Regions from separate parts of the Homo sapiens genome. Here region 2 is linked to region 1. A link means that fine-mapping ties the variant in region 1 to the expression of a gene that starts in the linked region. Tissue or cell type: monocytes after interferon gamma. Region 1 holds a variant in brackets; the other region holds the start of a gene. All regions are shown on one strand. Distances are from middle to middle.

Evidence for each region.
Region 2: KIAA0040 starts here. The variant in region 1 is fine-mapped to the expression of KIAA0040 in monocytes after interferon gamma (Fairfax 2014, PIP 0.95).

Annotation. Positions count from the first base shown.
Region 1 is chr1:175,159,527-175,162,438 of GRCh38, forward strand. KIAA0040 reads right to left here. Exons shown (of 4, transcript NM_014656.3): 4 at 1-1,620. The coding sequence starts at 1,487. The coding sequence ends at 1,188. Among named protein-coding and RNA genes, the nearest start is that of KIAA0040, 32 kb to the right of the region's middle. The variant C/T (reference allele first, on the strand shown) is at 1,284.
Region 2 is chr1:175,191,190-175,194,101 of GRCh38, forward strand. KIAA0040 reads right to left here and starts at 1,587. Exons shown (of 4, transcript NM_014656.3): 1 at 1,451-1,587. RefSeq lists enhancers at 790-839, 980-1,029, 1,270-1,419, 2,140-2,249.

The DNA.
Region 1 (2,912 bases):
ACCTCTTTATAGCTTCATCCTACTTTCATTTAAACTCTGTTACCTCTGCATCCCACCTGTGCCATACCGTGCACACATCACAACCTTATGACATCACTTCCAGTGTTGCCTTCTGTGAGACTGCACTGATGATTGTCTAGTTCCTTCCCTGCTGGAAACTTTGGTTATATAGGAGATACCTAGCTCAGGTGTAGCATCTCCTCACCCTTTCCATCTGTAAACATTGCACAGGTACACAGTTGCAGTCCACTGACATAAATGAGTGGGCTTCCATAATTTTCTAGCAGTCACCACCAAGAGCTCTTTGTTCTTGCTTGGAGAAAGGCACTTTGCTGAGTGGTTTGCGGGGGTAATGTTTCACAGAGAGGTCTTGGATCACATTAAACACCTCTCAGTGGCAATGAGGACGGACTTTGTCATGAGTTACAAGAAAAGAGCTTTCAATGAATTTTGAACCATCACACTTTAAACATCTTGGCACAGGTGAGGGGTCAGAGGCACAGAAACTTGGTGTGTCTGTATCAAGACACACAAGGGTGGGGACTGTAGCAGGTTGCTGGAATGTCCAATTATGAGTACTTCCAGTAAAAGTTTATGTGTAGAGTTAGAAATAGGAAAGCATGCATCTGTAACCTGAGTGGTTTATGGAATAGATGGTGTATGGGGGCCTTGCTGGTTAGGAAATTGTATATATGTGTCTGAATCTGGCAAGGCTTTCCCATGAGACATTTTTGTGACTGTAGATAATGTACTTCCCTGCACAAAGTACATAGCCAATGACCATTTGATGAGCAGAATATACTTGCCCACGTACCTGCTACCTGAATTTGTGTGTGTGTGTGTTACGTGCATGTGCACACACTTGGGAACCATATTGAGATGTATGGATAAATGTTCTTTGTGCTTTGCATGTGGGGTATGCCAGAGACAGGTGGGAGGCATGCCTGGGTCTGCAGTAAGGAGCATTGCTATTGGACACATAGCTGCCAAGACAGTATCCAAGAATTGTCCACGTGGTCCCTGGGACTGCCCTCCACTGGGACACTTAGTCTGAGGTTTGTTCCTTGGTTGAGTAGTTACTCTGTGGACATGGACATAGTGCATTATTTCAGGGGTTCCTGAAATGTCTGTGTGTGGTCAGAAGGAGGCTTAGCCCCAGAAAGGAAACACCTCTGCTTCCTGCCTAACTAAACAGGCAGTGATGGTCTCTTCTCCATCTGGAGAAGCTTGGGTTGAGCAGAGATCCAGAGGTCTTCTTCATCCTTCTTCTTCTTCTTCTTCTT[C/T]TTCTTCTTGTTCTTCTCTGGCTGCTGGCCCCTCTTGCCTGGTGGGCTCCAGCAGCAATGGCAACAGATGAAGAGGAGTGTGATGATCACCAAGAGTGGCAGGCCCAGGAGGACTCCCAGGCAGATGGTGTTGTAGATGCCTTCTTGGTGTTTGGTCAAGATGGTGTCCCAGATAGAGCTGAAGAAGGCACTGATTCTCTCCATGGTGCTTGGCTAGATTAGGGCCAGAGAACCCTCTCGGCTTACAAGCAGGTCCTGGGCTCAAAAGGATGCAACCTTGACCACTTGTAATTTATTCCTCTTCCAGCTTTGGGTTTGGGCATGCCACTGGCAGCACCTGAAGAGATTAAAACAGACAACTGAAGAGAAATGCAGGGGGACTGGTCTACAATTTTAATAGTGTCATAGATTTTAGGCTTAGGAAAGGGGAAGGAATTGAAGATTTCCAGGGTTCAGTAAACTTGTATTGACTCAATAAACAAGATAAATGCATGCATGTAATCAATAAGCATCAACTAATTCTTGCTATGTACACACATTATATTGGGCTTAGGATATAAAAATGAATAGTATATCAGGTCTGGCACGTAGGAAGTTCTCAGTAGTTGTTGGATAAATGAATCAATGTGTGTGTTCAGTGTTCTGATAAGGGGTTGCTTCCCTGGACCCTTCTGCAACAGCAGTTCTCAATCTTTTTTCCACTGTAGCTCACCTGACAGATGTTGAACACACACTCCCCACAGGACAGGTCTGTATGTAACCTTTTATTAACATAACTTGCCATTTTCAAAGCTTATTGAAGCTTAAGCACAAAGTGAGATGTCTACTTCTTGCTGTCTGTAGTAGGGAACCTGGGTCTCCTCTGGGCTAAGAGGTCATCAGTCCTCATCCTGCCCCATGCCTGCTTTCCGTGCTGTCCCCTCATGATCTCTTCCCTGCTCCATGTCTCCTCCCCTCCTTATATCACATTCCTGTGCCTGAGAAGTCCTCTCCTCCCAAGGCTGAGAGAACCAGGGGTGACCATTTGCTGGCTTTCCACTTTCTACCTTCTACCTTCCTCTTCCTCATTACCCTTCTCTATGTTTTCTATTCCTTGACCAAATACTCCAAAGTCTCCTGCTCTCTTTCTTCTCTATGGGAGAGGAGTCCTTGCAGGCTGCTTAGTGATGGTGCTTGGAAACCAGAGTGAGGTTCCTGGGTGCCTCCCTGTTCCTGTTCTGAACTCAGCATACAGCTGGGGCCATTCTCCTGGTTGCTTGTACAGAGCTGCCCCTCTTCCCTGGTCACCCCTCCACATATATCTTAAAGCTCAGCTCTCAAGTATAAGGTCTTAGAGGCTGCCTTCCATTCTGGAATTACAGGTTCTTGTGTACAAACAAGACTTCAAGGACAGGCATGATTCAAGGAAATTTAAGAGGCCTGTTGGTGTAAGACATTCTCCAGGACCCAAATATTAAGGAGTGGTTGATTTTCAGGATGGACACTCCAGAGATCATCCCAATGAACTCTCTCACTTAAGGATAAAGAATCTGGGGTCCAGAGCAGTGAGGTGACATGTCTGAGGCCATAGAGACCCACCCAGGCCACACAGGCCCACCCAGACCCACCCAGACCTCTGGACAATGGGTT
Region 2 (2,912 bases), 32 kb after region 1:
TACTGGCCTGCACACGGTAGGTTTGGCAAATGTTGAATGAATGTATGGAATGGATGCATCTCCCTCTTTGGTGAAATCAATAACTTAGTTTGTTGAGTGTTTATTATTCTCTTGGGTTTAGTCTTTAGGGAAGAGGACAGAAGTCATACTCATTTCACAGGCCAAATATTGACAATGCATGGAGGCCAAAGAAACTTTTGTTTTACAACGCATCTCTTTCCTAAAATTGTATCTGGGATGGGGACAGAGAGGCAGAATTTCAGACAAAAGGAAAGACTTGGTCAGATTTTCCTGTACAGCTGCCTCTCCAGCCCAGCACTGGGTGAAGGGCAGGCACATCAGACTAAGTGGTTGATGCAACTGAACCAGTTTAAAGGCTGGTAAGACGCTTGCAGAAGTCTTTAGATAGAACTTGCAAACCATTTGCAAAAGGGTTAGGAACAGGTTGCATCAATGCTATGTTTAAGTCCTGCTCTTTGTAACTCAAGGCTCTCCCATTATCTAACAGAACTTCAGAATGAGGGTTCCTTAAAATTAGCTTCAGGTCCTTATGAGCTGTAGCTGAGCAAATGAAATGCAACTGCTTTAGAAGGGAGGAGCTTCCAAGATGCTCCAGTGGTCTTTTCCTTCCCTTCCTCGTATAACGCAATCGGTGGCACAATCCCGCTAAGTAGCATGGCATGCTGGCTGCCGGTGTTCTGTTAAATTAGGGTGAGTGCTTGTCTGTGCTTCAGTTTCCCTTTCGGTTAGGCAGGACTGGTCTTCCCACTAGCTATCATCTATAGTTTACTTAACTCTATTATCATATGATGAATCCCGTAAAGCTCTTCAGAATGTTAGGGAAACAGGTCCTATTATGTCCCCCACTCTACCTTCATGGGTGGGATGGGGGGTCTGGGGGTGGGACCACTGAGAGTCAAAGAAGTTAGGAAGTAATCTGTGTCACAGCAAGCTCCCTGGAAACTCTCAGAATAGCAAACAGGTTTCCTCTCCGCCCCTGGCTCCACGCCATATTTTCGTTTTGGCTAGTTCCTTAGCTCCAGAGAAAATCTGGCTTCACCTAGAATGGTTTAGAAACACCTAAGCCCGCGATGCTTTCCGGAGGGTCTCAGGCCTTAGCTTTCTCAGTAAAAAACAGAATTTCCATGTGTCCCCTTCAAAGCGCTCCTACCGGCAGCTGGAGTAAGGTAACTCCACCGCCGACCTCCGAGGAGTTCATGTGGACTCAGCCCAGGCGCAGAGAGGAAGACTCCTGAGAGTCCTCGCGAAGGAGGGAAACACACCAGAACTAAAGTTGTGAAGGCGCAAGAGGCTACTTAGGAATAATTCCTTGTATCTCTGGGGCAGGTCTCATCCTTCTAAAGACAGGAGTGACTGGGCGTCTTCTTCCAAACAGAGGGCGCTTAAAAATGTATTTTTAAAAAACATAACAGAAAGTCCTGAAACTCACCTTTCGGTCCGCGGAAGGGCTTCCTGCAGGCCCAGGGAATCTCCTGGTTGCTGCCCCGTCTGACAGCGCCCCGGGCCCTGGAGGGAGGTGTGGGTTCCTTTTTGGTTGCCTCTGCACTCCCACCCCGAGCCAGGTCTGGCGTGTAGGGCCCCGGCGCCGGCCAAGGTCGTGGGAGCCGCCCGCCCCGCCCCGCCCCGCCCCGCTCCACCCCCGCGCGTACCTGCCGCTGCCGCCGAGGGCAGCGCCCTCTGTGTTCCCTGCCTTCCTACGGGCCGACGCCTGGCATAGTTGAGGTTTCGCTCCAACTCTGTCCTGCCCCTGATGTCACAGGCACAACTTCCTGAATCTGGCTCGCCGTTCCGCCCGCTCCAGGGGCTCGGCCCAGGCTTTCCACCCTGGGCCAGCCCACCTCGGGTGCCTCTGGCCTTGGGCGCACACGCCCCAGACGCGCCCTCCCTCCCCGTCTTCCCGCCGGTGGCTCCCCACTCCCCGCCCCCCGCCATTACGTGTCCTTGCCCCCTCAGTCCCGGAACACGCCTCCTTCAGGACACAGCGGCTGCGGAGCCAGCCCCGGTGTCTCTCACAGACGCACCAGTGTTCCAGGAATGGGACACAGAACTCCGGGCAAACCCGGCTTCAGGGAAAACAGCTGCCTAAATAGAGGGCCTTCCTGGAAGGGGTGGGAGGCGTTGGAGAGGGATACCATGCGGCAGGTTGGGTGAAGGCTCCGATGTCTTATCGGGACAAATGAGCATGACAGTCCCCTCTAGCCAACGCCGGTTGCTCCAAGGGGTGCAGGTGACATCTCAGAAGAGTCTTTGTCTCTGCTGCCTGGAGGCGCTAAGGAAAACTGCGCCCCAGGAGCTGTCTGTCACAAGCAAATGACGGAGGGGAAAGCTGACTTCAAAAAGTTCTCAGGGGTTCTTCCCTCTCATCCTCAGCTGCTCTCCATCTACTTTCTATTCAGATCTCTTGGCTCTAGTTCCGAGCACATGGGATGCTAGGAAATGAAAAGACCTGCGCCCCTTTGAATAGGGGACTCCAGACACAAAGCTCTGATGATTCAGAGCTTGTTCAGTGCCTCCAGGGATACTGTGGGTGGGAAAAGAGGGGGATGCCAGGACCTGGCTGTGGATCATTTCAGGGGCCTCCTCAGTGTCATCCTGGGAGGTCCTCCCTGACAAGGGCCTGAAATGCTGTTCCCTCGACTGTATTTGCCAGGTACACAGGTACCAGGTGCCAGGTGCTGAACCAGGACTTGCCCTCCATCGACTGTGCCTGAGTATGGGTGTCCTTTGGCTTCTCCAAGTGGGCATTAAAATGACTGCTGCAACCAACTGTCACAACTGAGATTCAAGAGATTCCTTTCTGTTTATTCAGGAGAAACCACGTGGCTCTGAGTTGAAAGGCCAAAGAGAAAACCCACCATCCAGCCTGAAACGCCAAAAATGGCTAGAAAAAG